Regions from separate parts of the Homo sapiens genome. Here regions 1, 3 and 4 are each linked to region 2. The links come from fine-mapping of genetic effects on gene expression. A gene starts in region 2. Each other region holds a variant in brackets. All regions are shown on one strand. Distances are from middle to middle.

Region 1 (5,911 bases), 51 kb before region 2:
GCTGCTTATCTGGGAAGCTTCAGAAATAAAACATTTTGGAACGACCACCCCGAGGTAGAAGACGAGGATTTGGAAATACACTTTTAAAATAAAGTGATGGGAGGCTGGGTGCAGTGCTTCACACCTGTAATCCCATCACTTTGGGAGGCTGAGTCGGGTGGATCACCTGAGGTCAGGAGTTTGAGACCAGCCTAGCCAACAAGATGAAACCCCATCTGTACTAAAAATACAAAAATTAGCCAGGCATGGTGGCATGCGCCTATAATCCCAGCTACTTGGGAGGCTGAGGCATGAGAACCCAGGAGATGGAGGTCGCAGTGAGCCAAGATCATGCCACTGCACTCCAGCCTGGGTGACAGAGCAAGACTCTGTCTCAAAAATAAAAATAAAATAAAGTGGTGGGAAAGAGAGACGTTTAGTATCTCAGCCACACTAAACCTTTAAGCCTCTGTGCACACAGCCAGTCATTTCTTGATCTCTTTGTTAATATAACTTTAGTATCAGGCAGTTTGTTGTACAAAGTCCTGCAGTTCTTCAAGTAATAAACTCACATCAAAACACTGTTTCCGAGCATTAAAAAAATATATAGCATTGATTTAAAAAATGAATGAACTGAACAAAGGTCTCCCACTAATGACCCTCGTGGGATATTTGAGAGGGTTTTGGAGCCAGCAGAGGCCAAACTAGAGAGTGGGGCGGGGTGGGGGCGGGGACGGTAGTCAAAAACGTCAGCGCAAGCCCAGGAAGTACCTCGAAACCTCATCTTCCTGCCCGAAGATGAACTGCCTGAACTGTGCGGGGCAGAAAGGATGGGAGCAGCTGCCCCACCTTCCTGCCCAGTCCCAGCCTCTGGGGAGAGGGTCTCCCCAGGGCACCCTTCTGGGAGAGACAAGGAGAAAAGTTGGTGGGAGGGGACGGTCTGACCAGGATGGGTGCCCAGGGCCTTGGAGGGTCCTCCCGTGCTGCAGGGACCCGCAAGAACCCCGGGAGCTGCCTCCCTCCACAGCTCACCAGCTCCCCCGTGAGCTCAAGCCAGGAATTTCAGGCAGGCTCTCGGGGGTCCCCAGACTTCCTTCTACTCCAAGGAGCCTGGGGAGCCCGGGACCTCCCAGAAAAGCATGTGGGCAGCTCTGCCCTAGGAGACCATGGTTCTTGTCAAGAAAAAGTCACCGAAGTCCAAGAGGCTCCTCCAAAGAATGTCTACTGAATTCCCTTCCCCTTCCTTCGGACACAAAATGTCTGGAGAGGCAACAACCTGGTTCCAGGTTGGAAATGGAGCCATATTACGCTGCTGGGGCACCCACCACTCAGATCTCCCTCTCACTTCTCTGGCTTCCCCCTGCATGTCCCCTTCTGGGCCCAAATCCTCTCCTGAGAGCCCCCCCACCCCTGGTTTCGAGCCTGCAATCATTTGAATGACATTCAGGTCCAGCTGGCTGCCCGTCGATCACGACTCGAACGCGGGGTAACATCGTGTGCATGTGTGTGCGGGGGACTGGGGGGACAGTGAAAGAGTCCCAGGCAAGGATCCAGGAGTCAGACCCGGCCGGGATCTGCTACCCTTCCCTGCGCACCTTAGGCAGACCACACGACCTATCCCTGGTTTGGTGGCCTCATAATAATCACCAAGGTTTATTAAGCCGCTGTGCGCAAGGCACTGTGCTGCGCACATTGCATGTATTATCTCATTGGATTTTATATAGTGCTAGCGTCTGAATGTTTGTGCCGCCCCCGACCCCCGCCCCAAATTCACATGTTGAAACCGAGTCCCCAGTGTGATGATATCAAGAGGCAGGGCCGGCTGGGGCACAGTGGCTCACACCTGTAATCCCAGCACTTTGGGAGGCCAAGGCGGGCGGATCACTTGAGGTCAGGAGTTCGAGACCACCCTGGCCAACATGGCAAAACCTCCTCTCTACCAAAAATACAAAAATTAGCCAGGCGTGGTGGCGCATGCCTGTAATCCCAGCTACTCAGGAGGCTGAGGCAGGAGAATCGCTTGAACCCAGGAGGCAGAGGTTGCAGTGAGCCCATATCATGCCACTGCACTCCAGCTTGGGTGACAGAGCGAGACTCCATCTCAAAAAAAAAAAGAGGCAGGGCCTTTCGCGGGTGATTAGGTCATGAAGGCTCTGGGTCGGCACCTGAATGAATGGGAATCAGTGCTCAGAGACCCTAGGGAACTTGCTTGCCCTTTCCAGCTGAGCATGTGCCCAGCATGTGAGGACATAAAAGGCACCATGGATGAGAAACAGGCTCTCACCAAACACCTCATCTGTCAGTGTCTTTAATCTTGGGCTTCCCAGCCTCCAGAACTGTGAGCAATAAATATCTGTTGTTTTTGAGTTACCCAGGTATTTTGTTATAGCAGATGAAACAGACTAAGGCATAGGGACCAATATTATCCCATCTAATAATTGAGAAAACTTGGGCTTGAAAAGATCCATGATGGCTTACGCAAGCTCACAGGGCTAATAAGCGACGGAGCTGGGATAGAATTTAGGCAGTTGAACTTCATGACATGAACATAACCACAATTCTCATGCTAACCAATAGTAAAATAATAATAATAAACAAATAATGAGGCTAGGCGCAGTGGCTCGTGTCTGTAATCCCAGCACTTTGGGAGGCTGAGGTGGGTGGATCACTTGAAGTCAGGAGTTTGAGACCAGCCTGGCCAACATGGTGAAACGCCATCTCTTCGAATGCTACAAAAATTGGCCGGGCGTGGTGGCGCACACCTGTAATCCCAGCTACT[C/T]GGGAGGCTGAGGCAGGAGAATTGCTTGAACCCAGAAGCAGAGGTTGCAGTGAGCGAAGAGTGCACTGCTGCCCTCCAGTCTGGGTGACAGAGCATGACTCCATCTCAAAAATAATAATAATGATGATGATAGTTGACAGAGGTTCTTTTAGTGCTAAGGTTCTGGGGAAACCTGCAAATTTAGTAAAGGTGGACCCACATTTTCATGTTTTCAGGTCATGATGAGTGACCTCGCTCCTTTAGGAAAAAAGAGAGAAATATTCCCTTTGGGAGGCACAGGGACAGCCTCCTGGGAGATCAGAGTCTCGCCTCTGCCTCTGCAATCAGCCAGGATCTGTAGACACAGATATTTATGAGGCAGTCTGCGGTGCTCTATTTCTTCCCCCATTCTTATGGGGGTGAGAGGGGCAGAAGGAGACCAAAAGCCACATACTTGCAAAGTCATCCTTCCTCTGGAGACCAAGAAGCAGCAGATTCTTTTCCTGGGAAACAAGTCTATCAGGCAGACATCTGTTACTCTTTGCGATCTGTATGCCATAACAGTTTAAAAAACAGAGTTTAAATGCTTAAAGAAGAAGAAAACAGTTTGCCTGTGTTGCAAAGCAGCATATAAACGGTGCTGGAATTAGCACAAGGGAAACATTTATCTTTCCTAGATAATCTCAAAACAGGCCTTTTTTTTTGGATTGTATATAATTATGTTTATTGGCATGGAAAGATGCTCATGATATATCACTAAAGGAAAAACAAAAAACAAAAAACAAAACTGGTTGCAAACACAAACTAGGCTTTTTAAAGAAGCATTGACTCTGCCTCCCTGGCTGGGGCCGGGGCCCTCTGTGTATCCCATAGAGGAAAGGGTAGAATGGGCCAAGACTGGCTGGGTAGTAGCCTTCTTCCTGGGAGAACAGAGACAGAGTCACATTTTCCAGCAGGAATGACCAAAGATTTGCCTGAGCTGGATAAGCCCAGCCTGGTGTAGTGATGGATGGTGGGCTCTGGGGATCCAAAAGACCTGGGTTCCAGTCCTAGCCCCACTATGAGTCGTGGTGACCTAGTGCAGTTTCAATGCTGCTGGAGCTCACTTCTCCACTGACACAGTGGAAGTCACATCTCCTGCACACAGGGGAGGTGCTCATGAAAGGGTGGGCTTCTCTCCCTCCAATCTGTGTTTTTTTTATTGTTTTTTTTTTTTTTGAGATGGAGTCTCACTGTGTCTCCCAGGCTGGAGTGCAGTAGCACAATCTTGGCTCACTGCAACCTCTGCCTGCTAGGTTCAAGCAATTCTCCTGCCTCAGCCTCCCAAGTAGCTGGGATTACAGACATCCACCACCACGCCCGGCTAATTTTTGTATTTTTAGTAGAGACGGGGTTTCACCATGTTGACTAGGCTGGTCTAGAACTCCTGACGTCAAGTGATCTGCCCGTCTCAGTCTCCTAAAATGCTGGGATTACAGGAATGAGCCACTGCGCCCGGCCTCCAATCTGTGTTTTTATGACAAAGGCATGGATTGGCCATGAGCAATGGGCAGCCCTGGGGTGGCAGGCTGTGAATGAGGGGGAAGGGGCTGCCTCGAGGGGTTCGGTCCCCTCCTCAGGAGCTAACACACAGCCTGAGACCTGAAGGATGAGAAGGAGCCGGCCACACCAGGGTCTGGAGGAAGCCACTCTGCGCATTGGCCGTGGCCCACGCAAAGGCTGCGGGAAGCAACATCCTGCCTTGCTTCCGGTCGGCTTCAGGCCTGTGAGGCTGGGAAGGGCCAGTCGTGGAGGATGGAGGGTGAGGTGGGACTGAGCTACATGTCCCGGGCCTTGGTTATGATCTGAATTTTGATGTTGAGAACAAGAAAAAGACACAAAAGGGGCTTAAGAAGAGTGAGCAGCATGACCAGGTTTGTTCTTTTAAAAAACTGGATACTAGGCCAGACGCGATGGCTCACACCTGTAATCCCGGCACTCTAGGAGGCCAAGGCTGGAGGATCGCTTAGGGTGAGGAGTTCAAGACCAGCCTGGGCAACATAGGGAGACCCCCATCTATACAAAAAAAAAAAAAAATATATATATATATATATATATTATATACACACACACATACACACACACACACACACACACACACACACATATATATAACAAATTAGCCAGGTGTGGTGGTGTGTGCCTATAGCACCAGCTACTCAGGAGGCTGAGGTGGGAGGATCACTGGAGCCCAGGGGTTTGAGGCTGCAGTGAGCTATGATCACACCACTGCCCTCCAGCCTGGGCAACAGAGTGAGACCATGTCTCTTAAAAAAAAAAAAAGAAGGATACTAGATGAAGATGAGGAGCAGGGGTGTGGCGTGAGGAGGACAGACCAGCTAGGAGGAGGAGCCTCTGGGCAAGAGATGAGGTGACCTGGTCAGGGCCCGTGGCCATGGAGATGGCAGGCATGGACACGGTGAAGCTATATTTTGGAGAAGAATCTAGAGGACTTTCTGATGATCAGATGTCGAAGTGCAGGACAGAGGAGACTCTCAGGCCACTTCCAGCTGCCCCTACCCAGTGGCCTTGTGGGAATCAGGAAAAGGGCTCCTCTAAACAAGCATGCAGCACAGGGCACCCGTGCAAGACCCTCACCCTGAGACCCTCCCTTGCAAGTGCGAAGTTGCTCAAGCCCCTGATTCTCACTCAGAGACCTGGTCAATTTTGGACTTGCAAAGCTTGTAGTGTCTGTGGCAATCCAAGGGGAGCCCTGGGCTCTGCCCAAGGTTTAGGGACCATTTCAACACAGTGATTCTACCCCTGGCTCCAGCTGTGTGTGAAGTTTCTTCCCTCCCTGCCTGGGCACCAGACTTTTTACAGTACTCACTGCATTGGACGCAACTAACCTTGTGAAGAAAAGAGTTTTTAAAACCCTGGAAGCTAATGTTACAAGACTATTTAGCACTTAAATAAATGCAAGTTCTAGAACATCTGCAGCCAAAATGAAAGTAAATAATGACAGAATGTGAGTCATGAGTAGTTTGCAAAGATTGTAAACAAAGCATCCTCCCAAATTCAGAGCCATGGCCTGAGAGTTGGGTACCAATTAATCAGCCCTTAACTCTATCACACACAAAAGGACACGTGTCCTCATTAGCAAGTCATGAGGGGAACTTAGCTAACTGACTGTCA
Region 2 (5,740 bases):
AATTCTCTGGGGTGCTTGTCAAAGACAAGCCCCACCTACAGTCCCCAACACTGAATCAGTCTGGGCAAGGCCTGAGAAGCTGCACTTTATCAAAGCCCTCCTGAACCCACAGGACGGGTGGAACACACTTTGAGAAACCTCAGGAAGAATAAGGAAATCCCACTCTGAACCTTGGAAGGAGGGGTTAGGAACTCAAAATCCTCCGCGGAAAGACAGTGTCTCCAGTGAGATTTTGCTGAAAGGTAGGAAAAGTGTAAAATAGAAGGTACTGGGGGAGGCAGGACCACAGCCAGGTCCAAATCAGGGGTCCTGCAGGAGCAGCTCTGGCTTTTGTGGAGCCTGAAGTTTATACAATTTGAGGATCCTCTTTAAGAAAAATAATTCAAAATTACAAAAAAAAAAAAAAAATTAAGTACAGGGTCCCAAAAATCACTTGGCTGTCTTCTCAGTACCTCGGCCCACAGGCCCAAATGACCCCTTTCTCACTAGGCTTCTTCTTTTCACACGGCTGGGTGGTGATGACCAGTCAGGCAAGAACTTATGTTATTTTCCATAATGGGGAAAGACCCTACACCTACAATTCCAAAGAAAATCAGGCTATTGGAGTGGAGGCATCCAGTACCAATCCATGATGTTTAGTGGCTGATCTTCCTTCCTTCCTTCCTTTTTTCTTCCTTCCTCCCTTCCTTCCTTCTTTCCTTTTCTTTGGATCTCACTCTGTCACCCAGGGTGAAGTGCAGTGGCACGATCTAAGCTCACTGTAGCCTCAACCTCCCAGGCTCAAGCCATCCTCTCACTTCAGCCGTCTAAGGAGCTGGGACTACAGGCACGCATCACCATGCCTGGCTAATTTTTTAATTTTTTTGTAGAGACGGGGTTTTGCCATGTTTCCCAGGCTTATCTGGAACTCCTGGGCTCAAGCAATCCTCCTGCCTCAGCCTCCCAAAGTGCTGGGATCACAGGTGTGAGCCACTGAGCCCGGCCTGAGACCGACCTTTCTGTCAGTGATGTAACCACATTTTATGAGGTTTAAAATTTGTTGCCCTGAAATAATTTGTTCCCTAAAACTGCCTTCAGCCTTTTTGGGGTGCAACCTGGCTACACGCAAAATCACCCCAAATCCATGTATCTCCCAGGATACAATGGTTCTATCTGTCAGTCTTCAACCCAAAAGCAATCTAAAGTAATAAGTAACGCGTACAGGGCTATTCATAGCAGCTCTATTTATAACAGGCAAAAGGGAGAAAAGCTACTAATTATTACACTTTTATTATGTGCCACACATTGTACTAGGGGCTTCATATGGTTTTGAGTATTTAATCCCATAACCCTATGAAACCCACTTTGCAGGTGGAGAAAGGTGCTGGAACATCAGCTCTCCTGAGTCAAAATGAAGCCTTCATTTTTAGCTTTGTTGATTTTCATGATGTAAATATCCCATCATAACTACTTTCAAGCTACCTATGGTTTACAACCAGTTTCCAAACTTTTTGAATATTTGGCAACTGGCTCTTGCAAGCCAGTTTGAGCCAGCTCCAGCACATCACTGAAACGGAGGCACAGAGAGATCAAGTAATTTGCCCAGTGTTGCTGAATGACAGAGTCAAGGTTAGAACCAAGAGTTTAATTCGAGTCCAGGCTCTGAGCAGCGCTCCACAGGCCTGTGCCAACCATAGAGACTGGTTAACATTAACACCCACAAGGGAATTCTTTGACTCACATGCAACACAAAAAGGTTTACATGACCACTAACGCTAACGGAGCACTTAGTACTTGCCGGGCAACAATGTAAGATCATTACAACAACCCTATGAAATCCTACATATTAAATACAATAATTTGCAAAACCTGATGGATGGAAGACAGGTTCCAATTAAGTACTTTAAAAGGCGAGTAGCTACTGTTATTCCCACTGTGCAGAACCTCATTCTGCAGAAAGGTCCCACGGCTGGTGAATATGGCGAAGGTGAGATTCGGATCCAGCCAGTCTGGTCCCAGTCTCTAAACCACAATGTCCCTCATAAAATACCAGGAGCAGAAAGGAAATGCACCAACGCGTTGGGACTCTGAGCGCCAAGCAGAAGTGAATCTTGGCGTGGGAAGCCCGGCAAAGCCCCCGAACTTCAGAGTCAGGGGAACCTGGGTTTGAAAGCCTCCCCATCACCTGCGGAGTGTGACTGGGGCAAGTTACCTAACAGCGCCTGGCTTCCGCTCCCTCCTCACTCACCGGGTTGTCCTAGGGGTGAAGGGAGAGTTCACCCAACGCGGTGGACAAAGCCCTTGGCGCACCCAAAGGCCTGCACAGGTCGTAGCTATTGTGATGAGCAAAAGGGTGGAAGGACCGGAATCAAGGGCACGGCTCCACCTTCACCGTGGGGTCTTTGGCCTATCAAGTTGCCCGAGATCGTGGCTCAGGCTGGCCCAAAGTGACGGCCAAGGCGAATCCTTCGTAACGTCAGAACTTCGCTGGCTCGGACCGCAGAAGTGCCCTTCTCCATCCTGGGGTTCCGCCACCCTCGCGATCCCACCTTTTGGCTCCTCGCGGCAGAAGCGAAGGCCCCCGACGCCCCAGGCCCAGGGGCCCAGTCGGATGCCCGGGTCCAGCCGTGCTCCCCCGGGCGCTCGGCATCCTTCCACCCACGCCCGCAGCGGAGGCGGAGAGCGTCACGGAGGGAGAAGCCCGCGCGCCGTTCCGCTTTCGGAATCTGGAGCCCCATGTCACCTCCAAAGTTTGGAGATTTGGGGCGCTCCTTTTTCTCCCAGACCATCACTAAAAAGAAAACTGCGGCTGTTCCTCTTTCAGCCAAACTTCCTCCCCGGGGCTCCCGGAGGAGCTCTGCGCTCCCGTCGCGGCTGGGACCGCGAAGGTGCGGTACCCAGCGGGGAGAGGTGGTGCGGTCGGCCGGGGCTCCAGTCTGGGAGGTACCACCGAGCCGCGCCCGAGCACAAGAGGGAGGGCAGGAGGCCGGGCGGGCGAAACGGCGCCCCGACCCCGAGCCCGCGGGCCCCCGAAGCCGCTTACCTGACGGCGGCCGCTTCCTGCTCAGCCGGCTCACGGCGCGGTTGAACATCGCCGCGGGCGCCCGAGGAGGAAGAAGGAGCAGCCCGGCGGCGCGGCGGCTGAGCCGGAGGAAGGCGAGGAGGAGGAGGAGGGCGAGGAGGAGGAGGAGGAGGGCAAGGAGGAGGAGCGGGCTCAGCACCGCCCCGGAGCTCTAGGTCCCCGCCCGCCGCCCTCCTCCTAGCCAGGCGCCGCGTGGCGCGCTCAGTGCGCCCTGCCCGCCCCCGCTGGTGAGGACTCGCGGTTCCGCTCCGGGGTGCCCGGGCGGGGCAGGGCAGGGCAGCCCCGGGTGACCCCCGATCGCCCAGAGTGTGCCCCGCGCCTGGGATAAGGTGCACTGGCCCAGAGGGAGCCCGCGCCGCCGGGAACTTAGTAGCCCCGCGGAGGCGGTTAGCGCGTCCCGGGGTCCCTGGCCCTCGCCTGAGATGCCGCCCCGGCCCGCCCCGCCCAGCTTCAAGCTCCCGGGCCCATCGCGGTCTCCCGCCTTCTCCCTGTAGCCCCGGAGAAACTGGCACGGCGCCGCGGGCGCACCGCGCTTCGGGGCTCTCAGCGAGCCTTCGCAGGTGGCGGGCGGGGTCCCCTCCCGGGTCACAGGCTGGGAAGCCTAGGCCTCGCGGTTCTGCAGAGTCCGGGCGCGGCCCAGCCTGTGGCCTTTGCCTCCTCGTCACCAGGATCCCCGCCTGCTGGGGCCTGGCTGCTCCTCGACTTCGTGGGCGCTGCGCCTTCCCGCCCCGCGAATGCGGGTGGGGCGTCCCCAGGGCCCGTGCGCTGAGCTAGCCGAGCCGCCGCGGGTGGGCGCCCTCTCCCCGGCCGTGCCGCGCGGGCGCCAGGACTCGGGGAGATCTGAGAGGATTCTGCAGGAACCCCCCGGTTCCTGCGCCGGGCGGTGCTCTGTCCCGCACACCGCGCTCTCGGGACACTTCTCTAACTTTGGGGACACGTGGGCACTGCCTCTGGCAGGGCCTTCAGGCTCCACGACCGGGACCACTCAAGCCCCCACGGCGTCACCTGCTGGGCGCTGCGCGCTCTACGGTCTCCTATTATTTCATTTCTTCTATGGAGCAGCCCCAGAGGGGATGTCATTAGCCCCCATTTTCTTGAACATTTGGTTTGCAAGAAATTGTCTTTCTGGCGAGTTTTATTTTTCTCCTTGTGTATCTGGCTTTGTCTCTAAATTGGTCTTTATTTTTAGCTGTACTAATTGCTATTTTTCCAAACCGTTCCCCAGTCGCCCTCCCCCCATCCCCCCGTCCTTTTGCAGTTTTTTTCACTACTTGGCACTTTCTTTTGTATCTTCTATTCTGAGCTTCCAGTTCTGCTCACTTTCCCTCTCCCTCTACCCACCCCACAGCCCCAGTTGCACCCCAAGTGTGGCCGGTGGTTGCTTGTTGTTTCCCTCCCCGCTATTCCCCCTCCAAAAGTCGTTTTCCTCCGAGCATTTCCAAGCACTCTCCCCCTTCTGCTGCCAAAAGAGGATTTCCAGGCTCCTGAAGCGAACGCGGTGACCAAGAACAGGGTTAGACCCAGCGCGGGGAGTTCTGCTTTTAAAACTGCTGTTGTTGGCCTACTCCGGGCCCAGACAAACTTCCATCTCATTGTAATGGGATCAAGCTGTGATACTTAACTATAGGCAAGAGTTTCACCTTTCGTAAGAGCGGGATTTTAAATGCTGGCAGAGTCCTGGATCCAAGTGAGGTCACTGCGTTCTTAAAACAATAAGGGAATTGGTGCAACGCACTCACCCAGAAAACTTCCCCGAGACCAAATTACAAGTAATCCTAAGACAGGAAATAAGCACACTGGCACACAGGGGTAAAAGTTAGGCACAGCAGCTCAGTGTTTTGCTAGTTGCCAAGTCCACCCTAGCGTGTCCTGAAAAACACTGGTGTGGCTTAAGACATGCTATGAATCCCTCCTGAGCTAAGAACCCCAGGCATCTCTTAAATAAAGGGAAAATATAACAGCCTTAAATCACTTTTACTGTCCTGTTAGCACATCAGAGAGTAAGTACAAAAATTAAGATGCATAGTTAGGGCCAGGCGCTGTGGCTCACGTCTGTAATCCCAGCACTTTGGGAGGCAGAGGCAGGCGGATTACCTGAGGTCAGGAGTTCAAGACCAGCCTGGCTAACATGGTGAAGCCCCATCTGTACTAAAAATACAAAAATTAGCCAGGCCTGGTGGCAGGTGCCTGTAATCCCAGCTACTCAGGAGGCTGACACAGAAGAATCACTTGAGCCTGGGAGGAGGAGGTTGCAGTGAGCCAAGATCTGAAGGAGGAGGTTGCAGTGAGCTGAGATCTCACCACTGCACTCCAGCCTGGGCCACAGAGCAAGACTCTGTCTCCAAAAAAAGGAAAAAAAGGCCGGGTGCGGTGGTTCACACCTGTAATCCCAGCACTTTGGGAGGCCAAGGCGGGCGGATCACCTGAGGTCGGGAGTTCGAGACCAGCCTGACGAACATGGTGAAACCTCATCTCTACTAAAAATACAAAATTAGCCAGGCGCGGTGGCAGGCATCTGTAATCCCAGCTACTCAGGAGGCTGAGGCAGGAGAATCGCTTGAACCCGGGAGGCAGAGTTTGCAGTGAACTGAGATCGAGCCATTGCACTCCAGCCTGGGTGACTGAGCAAGACTCCATCTCAAAAAAAAAAAAAAAAAAAATGCATGGTTAACGTTTAAG
Region 3 (5,911 bases), 41 kb after region 2:
TTCCAGTTAGCCCTAATTAACTACAACCATTCCTGAACTCTCCCTAATGCTTCTTTACCTGTTAGAAAAAAGCAGTAGGACAAAAACATGTAATAAACATGCAACCTAATCAAATAGCCTGTGCTTTCTAAACTAAATGCTCAAATTTGAAGATTAATAGGAACAACAGTTTCCCTTTCTAATATTCTATTTACTAGTGTCCTCTAAGGTTTACTGATTCTATAAATTACTGTAACAATACTAACTACTTTACCATGCAATCTCTAAATAGTTAAATGTCTTCTGCCTAGTGATACAAAATATATGAAATATTAAAAAATTGAAAAAGAGGAAAAAATAGGAATTAAAAAGGCATACATGGCCTGTTAACAGATTTCTTTATTTTTCTTGGTCAATTCTCTACCATCATTTTGGAGTTTGGGCAGCTGTAAATTTTGAAAAATTGACATTTTCAGAAATTTAAGAAAGGAGAATAAAAAACTAACAACAATGCTAAGCACACCAGTACGAAAACAACAAATTTACACAGAAATTTTAGTGAGTAAGTTAAATGATTGGAAATATAGAACTCCACTGAATATAGAATGTTAAAATGTAAATACTAAAATATGTATATATAAATAATGTATAATAAGAATAAATAGAAATGAGAAAAAAAATCTACAACTGAGTTCCAGTGTGCACAGTTCCTTGCAGTTAGCCTTCAAGATCCTGTCCATTCTTATGAGCAATTCTGCAAAATAACCAGAATGCTATTACTTTTAATTGTGACTTGGACTTAAGAAAAACTGCAGGTCTCAGGTATAAATAAAGATTGAAAAACAGCAACCTGTATTATTTTTATATTGATTTTTAAAATAGTACTACTTACCACATTTAGATTAAAAAGCAAAGCAAATATCAAAACAGAAAGTTAAGAATTACATCTTTTAAAGAAATTAAATCTATAGAACAACAAATTGTATAGAGAAAATATTGTTGTTCTTAGTTGAAACACTTTCCTGTAAAGTAGTACTAAGATGTTTAATTTAAATCTACAGGAAATATACAAAATAAACTGATTTTAATCAGAAAGATAAATTATGATAAACATTTTCTACAATTCATAACCATTTTTAGTTTTCCAATATATTTTTTACCAAGTAACAACAGTAAAATCTGAGCATAAATTTGTTAAAAATCAAACCACATTTGCCTCTTAACTAGTAGAATCAAATATCACTAACAAAAACATCTAATTAATCCCACATTTATGACTCATACATTGAAACATTTTAATAGTATAATAGTACTTTTCACTTATAGCTAAAATATCAAAAACACATTTATCATAATAAAACATGAACATTTCCAATTTAATCACAATATATCCAAGGATTTACCTACTCTCCCCCATTTATAAATTCCTCCTATAAAAGTTATTGAACTCTTACACAGTATAGATCACATTTACTTTTGATTAACTCATTATCCTAAACCATCAAATTTTGAAAACATATGACAAAAAGCTAGACTTTATAAGTTTTACCATTCAAACATCTGCTTCAAAGATAACAAACAGAATCACTTAAATTTTTTTTAACATATTATACACAGGATTAGATGAAAACGAGACCCCAAGACACTGAAATGACATTAACATTTTCAACAACATCCACTACTCAAAACAAACCAAAATAAATAAATGAAAAATAAGAAACAAAACAAAACCATACTAACTAGAGAAAGAAAATCTTAATTCAATTACAAGTTAATCATATACAATTCTGCCTATCATGACTGAGTGTAGTACTGATTATGATACTTACGATATTTTACCAAAGGGGGCAAATGCTGATTTGATATCTTCTGTTGTAATTTCTGGACTCAAATCCCCAACAAACACATGGAAGTGATCTGAAATCAGAGCATTTGGTAATCAAATACTTAAGAAGTCAGCCACTAAAACCTTTTTAAGGCAACTCTAGAGGAGGAAAAAAAAACCTATTTAAGCTGGTAATGCCTCCTGGATAATTTCAGAACTCTTCCACAGTAAAATGCAGCAGGAGTACTTACTGGAAGTATCTTTTTTCTGGCTACTTGGTGTGGTTGCCCAGTTTACTTTGACCTCCTAAAAATAAAGATTATATTTAATAAAATTATTAGGCATGTCATGAGTTACAACACTTACCACTTATTAAATCATTTATCAAGCAGGGTTATTTTTGTAAAAGCACTAAGCTGAATAAAGCAAAACCATCACTCAGCAGCCGAATATCTGCTCAAAAATTTGCCTAGAAAGAATACAAACTAGTTTGACATGCAAATATATGTACTCATAAGGTGCCATCATCCTATTATCTTACCTTTCCCAAAATTTTTCTCCCATTCATAGCAGCTAATGCAGCAGCTGCATCTCTGTGTTCATAAAATTCCACAAAGCAATATGGGTCATTGCTTGTATGCTGCAAAACAGAAAATCCAACAGAAGAGTTGACCCTTCTGCTATCGGGTTGCTGAGAAGAAAATCCAGGAAAAAACATTACTGATAGCTGGGAATATACAAGGTGAGACTGCATAAGCTTATGAAAGCCTAACACTTTTTAAATAAGATTTAAAGCTAAACCTGACTTTGCACCTCAGAATACTGCTGAACTCAAACGGAACTATAAAAGCAGTTGTAGAATCATGAGCATCAGTATTAAATGAAAATAAAGAATTCTGGTGAAGTGTGTTAAATATAAAATAGAAGATTATATTAAACCAAACAAAACCTCAAACT[C/A]AGATCTGATGAGGACCACTCCTTACCACTACTTTCCTTCTCCAATATTATTTTTAAATTACGTTCTACTTATGCATCATAATCCTCTATAAGTGGTATCCCAGGATACAGAAATACAGCAAGAACCAACTTCATAAACTACTGATCAAAATTAGGATCAATACTACAAATGATGGAATTCTATGCTGCTACAAAGACTGAATTTTATTGATTTCTTTTCTGGATATGGAAAGAATGAAAATAAAAACAAGAAAACTTAAGCTTTATAACCAGCTACTGAAATGAATTCCCTACCTTCCAAAATAGTCTAATGTACTGAAGATTCTATATACTTTGAATTTGGTCTTCCAAAGATCAGAGAAATAACAGTGGTGATCAAGAAAAGAGGTTCTGAAAATGTATCTGAATAAAATATTCCAAGACAAAGCTATAAGTTTACATCATAAGAACACCATATAAAAAATCTATATTAAATATATTCTGCAACCCTGTGCTTGACAGTAGTTACCTAAAACACATTTATAAAGATGTGAAGAAAGTAGTACTACCTAAGCTATAGCAACATTCTCACCTGACAACCAAACTAGAAATGAATTTCTATGAAACTGCAACCTGTACTGAATAGCTGCACAACTGTACAAATACATATTTTTATGTAAGGCTAAAAACATTCATCATTATTCAATGTAAAATGCCCTATAAGAATAATATTTAAAATGTGGAATTCTAGTTGGACTTACAAGGGATAAATATACCAGATAAAATAAAGATCTTTTCAACCACAACAGTTTTTCATTCCAGGAAAGTTTTAGAAGAAAAATCCAAAATAAGACGTCTAAACAATAGTGGCAAAGGAACCAGAAGGCATTTCCTTGAGGGAAAAAAAGTGGGATCGTTAATACTGACAACAAAACTATGGGCTCTCATACAAAATCCTACTGTTGTAGCCACGTGAATGCTGTTCTTAAGAGGTAAAGAAAGGAAATGGGGGAAGACTTCAAATGAAAACACACATTTAAATTCTTGTAAAAGAGTTATTACATTTACCATAAATATTCATTGAAGAAAGGACATCAAAATAAATAAGAGGCTAAAATTGTGCTAGTTGAGTTTTCCTTTCACTCCTATCTCTTTTGCCCCAATGGTCTCTAAGGAAAACACTGATAATCACAGCAAAACATACAGGGGTCCAACAGCAGATCTATGATAATCCCATACACTTTAGGAAACTAGTCTACTCGTGAATACCAATTTCAAATCTATCTAATAGTAGGCCAGCTCCCAATCAATGTATGCACGTGCATGTATATATACACATATATTCACTGACATCACATATTTTATATATTCACATCACACTGCATATCATCTAATTTAAGACACCACTTATTTCTAAGTCACATCCCAACTGTCAGATATTAAAATTCTAAAAAAATTTGACTTAGAATCAATAATATATATTTGTATTATATAAGGAAAGCTAGAATCTATGATAACAACATCTAAAGTAAAAAAAAAATCATAAAACTATGGGGGAAAAAGGATTTTTCACATACTGAAATGAAATTTATGAAAGAAAAATAAATAGCTGCTAGATACTCTGCTAGAGTTTATACCCTCTGGAAGCTTCTTATTTACACCACCAAGTGACATCCTAAAAATCAATTATGGGCTGGGTGCAGTGGCTCACACCTGTAATCCCAGCACTTTGGAAGGCTGAGGCAGCTGGATCACTTGAGGTCAGGAGTTCGAGACCAGCCTGACCAACATGGTGAGACCCCCATCTCTACCAAAAATACAAAAAATTAGCTGGGTGTGGTGGCGGGCGCCTGTAATCCCAGCTACTCAGGAGGCTGAGGCAGGAGAATCGTTTGAACCTGGGAGGCAGAGGTTGCAGTGAGCCAAGATCGTGCCACTGCACTCCAGCCCGGGCAACAGAGCCAGACTCTGTCTCAAAAAAAAGTGCTCACGCCTGTAACCCAAGCACTTTGGGAGGGCGAGGTGGGCGGTTCACGAGGTCAGAAGATCAAGACCATCCTGGCTAATATGGTGAAACCTTGTCTCTATTAAAAATACAAAAAATAAAAAAATAAAAAATATTAGCTGGGCATGATGGCACGCACCTGTAGTCCCAGCTACTTGGGAGGCTGAGGCAGGAGAATCACTTGAACCCAGGAGGCCAAGGCTGCAGTGAGCCGAGATCATGCCATTGCACTCCAGCCTGGGCAAAAGAGCAAGATTCCATCTCAAAAAAAAAAAAAAAAAAAAAAAATCAATTATGGCTGGGTGCAGTGTCTCATGCCTATAATCTCAGCACTTTAGGAGGATGAGGCAGAGGCAGGAGGATCACTTGAGCCTAGGAGTTTAGGACCAGCCAGAAGTTCGGGACCATTGGTAACATGGTGAAACCAATCTCTACAAACACATTTAAAAATGAACTAGGTGTGGCGGTGCTGTCCCAGCTACTTGGGAGACTGAGGTGGGAGGATCACTTGAACCCAGGAGGTGGAGGCTGCAGTGAGCCATGATGGCGCCACTGCACTCCAGCCTGGAGGACAGAGTCAGACCCTGTCTCTTAAAAAAAAAAAAAAAAAATCCGTTATGTCCCTACCTTATTTAGCGTTGTCACCAATTTTTGTTGGATGACATAAATGTCAAGACAGAGAAATATGAGACTTTACAAGCTCAAATCTAGGAGTTCTAGAATATGGATGTTATGAAAATTCATTTCGAGTCCCTCTACCCTTCAAATAGCTGTATGTATACATGGGGTTTTAAAAAATAGTTAAAATAAATCTTTACAAATGTTTCTCAAAAATTTTCTAGTGAGTCTTTCCCCACTTTCTCACAACCCGTTCTCTCCTAAACCTACTTCTGTCAGCTTCCAAGCTAACCATGCCACTGAAACTGCATGTTGAGCTCAACAATGACCTCTCTGCTGCTTCTGTGATTCCTTTTCCATCCTAATCTTTACTTCCAAGCAGAATTCACTACAGTTGACCACCATCCTCCTTTAAACATTCTCTTCTGTCTCCTACCACACTCTGGTTTTCCTGTTTCCTCACTGTAGGATCTTTCTTCCCTTACTCAAACTCTAAATGTTGAGCTTGTCCAGGGCTCAGACCTCACGGCCTCTGTGCTCTTCTTTAC
Region 4 (5,911 bases), 810 kb after region 2:
AATTGATAGCAAGAAGAATTTTGGAAACTATACAAACACGTGGAAATGAAACAATATGAACCTGAATGACCAGTGGGTCAATGAAGAAATTAAGAAGGAAACGGAAAAGTTTCTTGAAACAAATGATAATGGAAACATAACATACCAAAACCTATGGGATACAGCAAAGGGAGTACTTACTAAAAGGGAAGTTTGCAACTATAAGTGCCTACATCAAAAAAGAAGAAAAACTTCAACTAAACAACCTAAGGATGCATCTTAAACAACTAAAAAAGCAAAAGCAAACCAAATCCAAAATTAGTGGAAGAAAATAAATAATAAAGGTTACAGCAGAAATAAATGAATTTGAAATGAAGAAAACAAAAAATCAACAGAACAAAATGTTGCTTTTTTCTGAAAAGATAAACAAAATTGATAAACCATTAGCTAGACTAATTAAGAAAAAGAGAGACATTAGACTCAACAAAATCAGAGATGAAAAAGGAGACATTACAACTGATACCACAGAAATTCAAAGGATTGTTAGTGGCAACTATGAGCAACTATATGCCAATAAATTTGGAAATCTAGAAGAAATGTATAAATTCCTAGACACATACAACTTACCAAGACTGAACCATGAAAAAATTCAAAACCTGAAAAGACCAATGACAGGTAATGAGATCAAGGTCATAATAAAATGTCTTTCAGCAAAGAAAAGCCCAGAACCTGATAGCTTCACTGCTGAATTCTACCACACTTTTTTTTTTTTTTTTTGAGATGGAGTCTCACTGTGTTGCCCAGGAGGGAGTGCAGTGGCGCCATCTTGGCTCACTGCAACTTCCATCTCCCAGGTTCAAATAATTCTCCTGCCTCAGCCTCCTAAGTAGCTGGGATTACACAGGTGCACACCACCATGCCCAGCACACACCTGTAAACCCAGCTACTCGGGAGGCTGAGGCAGGAGTAGTAATTTTTTTGTTTTTTTGTATTTTTAGTAGAGATGGGTTTTCACCATGTTGGGCAGGCTGGTCTTGAACTCCTGAACTCTGGTGATCTGCCCTCCTTGGCTTCCCAAAGTGCTGGGATTACAGGCATGAGCCACTGCCCTTGGCCCATACCAAACTTTTAAAGAAGAACTAGTACCAATCCTACTCAAACTATTCCAAAAAATGCAGGAGGGGGGAATACTTTCAAACTCATGTCATGAGGCCAGTATCATCCTGATACCAAAACCAGACACAGGCACAGCAGAAAAAGAAAACTACAGGTCAATATGCCTGATGAATACTGATGCAAAAATCCTCAACAAAATGCTTAGCAAATTGAATTCAGCAACATATTAAAAAGATTGTTCTTCATGACCAAATGGGATTTATCCTAGGGATGCAAGGATGGTTCAACATATGCAAATCAATTAATGTGATACTTCATATCAACAGAATGAAGGACAAAAACTATATGATCATTTCAGTTGATGCTGAAAAAACATTTGGTAAGGCTCAACATCCCTTCATGATAAAAACTCTAAAAAAAAAAAACTGGGTATAGAATGAACATACCTCAGTGTAACAAAAGCCATATACAATAGACCCATAGCTACTATCATACTGAATGAGGAAAAACTGGAAGTCTTTCTTCTAAGATTGGGAACATGACAAGGATGCCCACATTTACCACTGTTATTCAACATAGTACTGGAAGCCTTAGATAGAGCAAGGCATACAAGAGAAATAATGAAGAGCATCTATCTGGATTGGAAATGAAGAAGTCAAATTATTCTTATTTGCAGATAATATGATCTTGTATTTGGAAAAACCTAAAGGCTCCACCAAAAGACTATTAGAACTGATAAACAAATTCAGTAAAGTTGCAGGATACAAAATCAACGTACAAAAATCAGTAACATTTCTATATGCCAACAGTGAACAATCTGAAACAGAAATCAAGAAAGCAACCCCATTCACAATAGCTACAAATAAAATAAAATACCTAGGAATTAACTTAAGCAAAGAAGTAAAAGATCTCTACAATGAAAACTATAAAACATTGCAAGAAATTGAAGATACTAAAAAATGGAAAAAGATTCCATGTTCATGGATTGGAAGAATCAATATTGTTAAAATGTCCATACTACCCAAAACAATCTACAGATTTAATGTAATTCCTGTCAAAACATCAATAACATTCTTCTTCATGGAAATAGGGAAAAGAATTCTAAAATTTATGTGGAACCACAAAAGACCCAGAATAGCCAAAGTTATCCAAATGCAAAAAGTACAAAACTGGAGGAATTACATTACCTGACTTTAAATTACACCACAGAGCTATAGTAACCAAAATGGCATGGTATGGGCAATAAAACAAACACATAGACCAATGGAATAGAATAGAGAACCCAGTAATAAATCCATACATCTACAGTGAACTCATTTTTGACAAAGGTGCCAAGAACCTACACTGGGAAAAAGACAGTCTCTTCAATAAATGATGCTGGGAAAACTGAATATCCATCTACAAAAGAATGAACTAGAACTCTATCTCTTTCCGTAGACAAAAATCAAATCAAAATAAAGACTAAAGACTAAGACCTCCAACTATGAAGCTACCAAGAGAAAATATTGGGGAAACTCTCCAGGACATTGGAATGGGCAAAGATTTCTTGAGTAATAACCCACAAGCCTAGGCAACCAAAGCAAAAATGGACAAATGGGATCTCATCAAGTTAAAAAGCTTCTGCACAGCAAAGGAAGCAGTCAACGAAGTGAAAAGGCAACCTAAAGAATGAGAGAAAATATTTTCAAACTACCCATCTGACAAGGGATTAATAACCAGAATACATAAGGAGCTCAAACTCTATATGAAAAATCTAATAATCCAATTAAAATATGGGCAAAAGATCTGTATAAGCACTTCTCAAAAGAAGACATACAAATGACAAACAGGTATATGAAAACGTGCTCAATATCATAGATCATCAGAGAAATGCAAATCAAAACTACAACGAGGTATCATCTTACCCCAGTTAAAATGGCTTTTTGTTTTCCCCAAAATTCAGGCAAGAAGAAATGCTGGAGAGGATTGCAAGCATCTGTGGAGTCATTCTATTTTTAAATTCACCTTCCAATTGTTTTCTTAAAACCATTGACAAATATATAAACTGGTTAATCTTTCTAAATATTGTCTCATTACAAAAGCTTTCATTATTTTCCAGATTAAGTAGAAATCATTGAATAAAAATAACTCCAAATTATTAAACAAACAAACAAACAAAAATGATCCAATGATCTGGAACATTTTCTTCCCAAGCGAAAAGAGTTGAAAGTTCATT[CT/C]TTTTTTTTTTTTTTTTTTGTAGCCCAGAGGTCCTTTATTTTTTTTTTTAACACCTATTATGCCATGAATTCATAGGGAATAGGTTCCAGCAGCTCAGGCTCCTTCCCATTGGTTCTCACAAAGTGTGCTTCTCTGGGTGGAGCAGGCTGGCGCTTTAGTTGAACCCAGGTACCTTTCTCTTTGGCTTCTTTCTTTTTCTGATCATTTTCCTTCACACGTTTCAGGAAGCTATCTCGGCTCTTAGAGTGCTTAATGTGCTCAATACGCACATTAATTCTCTTGGCAAGAATCTTGCCCTTAACTTGTTTGTTTACAACAATGCCAACAGCATGCTGGGTAACATTGTAGACTCTTCCAGTTTTGCCATGGTAACACTTGTGGGGCATTCCTTTTTGAACAGTACCCATTCCCTTGATGTCTACAATATCACCTTTCTTATAGATTCGCATATATGTGGCCAAAGGAACAACTCCATGTTTTCTAAAAGGCCTAGAGAACATATATCGGGTGCCTCTCCTCTTTCCCTTTGTGTTCGTCATTTTGGCGAATTACTGGAAGATGGCGGTTCCGGCCGAAAGGGAAAGTTCATTCTTGAGCTGAGGCAGACAAACCATTTGGCTTTCTTCAAGGCAAATCACAGGTAAACATGGATTTAGATTATGTCTGTTCTAGCAAACTTTTTATTCACATGAAAAGGGCCTACATAAATATCAGTTCAAAGCAGAGAAATATGCTTTGGATAAACCAGGGAAGTTTGTTTCTGCAACAATATCAGTAGGTTGAGTATTAGATAGACCAAAGAAGGTGTCATTCGTCACCTGGAAAGTTGAGAGAGAAAAATCCATTGAAAACTGAAGATGGAAGAGACTGATACTGCTGTTTTGAATTTATGAGAGTCCAGAGGTGAGAGTTATAACCAGGCATTCCCTACTGTAGACATTTGCCAATTTATGCCCTCATGTTGCAATGAATCTTCAGAAGGACTAAGCATGGATGCTATTATTAAAGCTAATTAAATCGCTCTGAATTACAGCTCATCCAGGGTATTAGCTAACAGAATGGTCATCATACTGTCTGGAAGAAATAAATAAAAGGGGATTGGTTGAGTAAGGAATTCCACTGATGGGGTTTTTTGTTATTTTTCATTCAAAAATAAGCTCTCTGGAAATACTAGAAATTAAGACCCACTGTGCTTCATCTCTTAGAAGTGTTGTGTAATAGTGGTCCGACCCATGTTCATTGTTGAGAAGCAGGAACTGATTTTCTTGTCTAGTTTTTTAAAAAATCACATTTGCCAAAGTAATTAAATGAAAGGCTAATTGACAACAAACTTCCTATTGCCCTATAGTCACAACTTACATATGAAATAGCATATTTTGTTTCTCTTTTTGCATTTCAATATGGCAAAACCATTGATGTCTGAGGGACAGGCAGAGAGCAGATTAGTTTCCAGGCTCTAAACAATAACCAGAAAATGGCTTGTAATGAAAATCCAAGTTGAATATCACCATTGTGACAAGAAAAGGGAGATGTAATGAACCCAACAGCATCATCTATAGGAAAAGTAATTTAAAATGTTCACATAAAGTACAGCTAGTTTGGAGTGCAAATGAGCAGGAAAAGGGTTTTTGGAATCCATTTGGATGCATGTGGAGTGCATTTGAAAGTGATGTTGTATCATACTAGATATATATGTGTGTTTGTATATGTGTGTGCACGAATGGATGCCTGAGTCATATATATATGTGTATATATATGCATAGATGTATATATGTATATCTACATATGTAAAGTTACAAGTATATTTGACAAAATGAATGCAGTGGAGGAATGTGATTAATCAAATTATTTTTTATAATCCCTGTAGTTTGAAAAATAATTCACTTGGCTGGATTATGGCATGGAGGAAATCCTTAAAAAGAATCCCAGGGACCTGCTACGTCTCTGTGAGGGTCAGTTTATGTGTCAACTTGCCTAGGACATAGTACCCAATTATTTAACCAAAACAGTAGTTTAGGTGTTGTCATGAAGGTATTTTGTAGATGTAGTTAGCATCTATAAGCAATTGGCTTCAAATAAGGGGATTTCCTTAAGAGCAAAAACTGAGATTTCCCAGAGGGAAAATTCTGTCTCAATACTGCAGCATCAGTTCCTGCCTGAGCTTCTATCCTACTGACCACGTCAATTTCAGACTTGTGAGGCCCCGCAATCAAATGAGCCAATTCCTTAAAATAAATAAATCTCTTTAATTATTATATGCATTTGTATGTGTATACATGTGTATGTCTATTTATATCTATCCTACTGGCTCTATTTCTCTGGAGAGCCTTGACTGATAGTCTCAGATAACCTTCATATACTAGACAGTTCCAGCCTTCCCTGTACATTGCCTGATTTGAGTCTCAACTTTCAATGACCTCACTTGATTTATATTTAAATTATTTCATATTCATTTAAACACAGATATTAAAACGTGGTTGGAATTCTGATGAAAGTTTTCACTGAGGGAAAGTAGCTGAGATAATGGAATGATATTCCGTACCATACTTATTCTTCAGAGATCTGAAGCTGGGATTTCTTTCCTTGAGGTTTATGTTCT

The links. PIP is the estimated chance that this variant, and not a neighbour inherited with it, causes the effect.
Region 1: its variant is fine-mapped to the expression of RGS10 in whole blood (TOPMed, PIP 0.96).
Region 3: its variant is fine-mapped to the expression of RGS10 in whole blood (TOPMed, PIP above 0.99).
Region 4: its variant is fine-mapped to the expression of RGS10 in monocytes after LPS (Kim-Hellmuth 2017, PIP 0.95).

Annotation. Positions count from the first base shown.
Region 1 is chr10:119,488,906-119,494,816 of GRCh38, forward strand. No RefSeq gene overlaps it. Among named protein-coding and RNA genes, the nearest start is that of RGS10, 51 kb to the right of the region's middle. The variant C/T (reference allele first, on the strand shown) is at 2,759.
Region 2 is chr10:119,539,568-119,545,307 of GRCh38, forward strand. RGS10 (regulator of G protein signaling 10) reads right to left here and starts at 3,152. Exons shown (of 5, transcript NM_001005339.2): 1 at 3,023-3,152. The coding sequence starts at 3,071. RefSeq lists silencers at 2,605-2,774, 2,825-3,564, 3,575-3,644, 3,695-3,854 and enhancers at 4,065-4,144, 4,407-4,915.
Region 3 is chr10:119,580,114-119,586,024 of GRCh38, forward strand. TIAL1 (TIA1 cytotoxic granule associated RNA binding protein like 1) reads right to left here. Exons shown (of 12, transcript NM_003252.4): 3 at 2,346-2,444; 4 at 2,056-2,110; 5 at 1,809-1,896. Among named protein-coding and RNA genes, the nearest start is that of TIAL1, 14 kb to the right of the region's middle. The variant C/A (reference allele first, on the strand shown) is at 2,762.
Region 4 is chr10:120,351,333-120,357,243 of GRCh38, forward strand. It overlaps the pseudogene RPL21P16. Among named protein-coding and RNA genes, the nearest start is that of PLPP4, 100 kb to the right of the region's middle. The variant CT/C (reference allele first, on the strand shown) is at 3,311.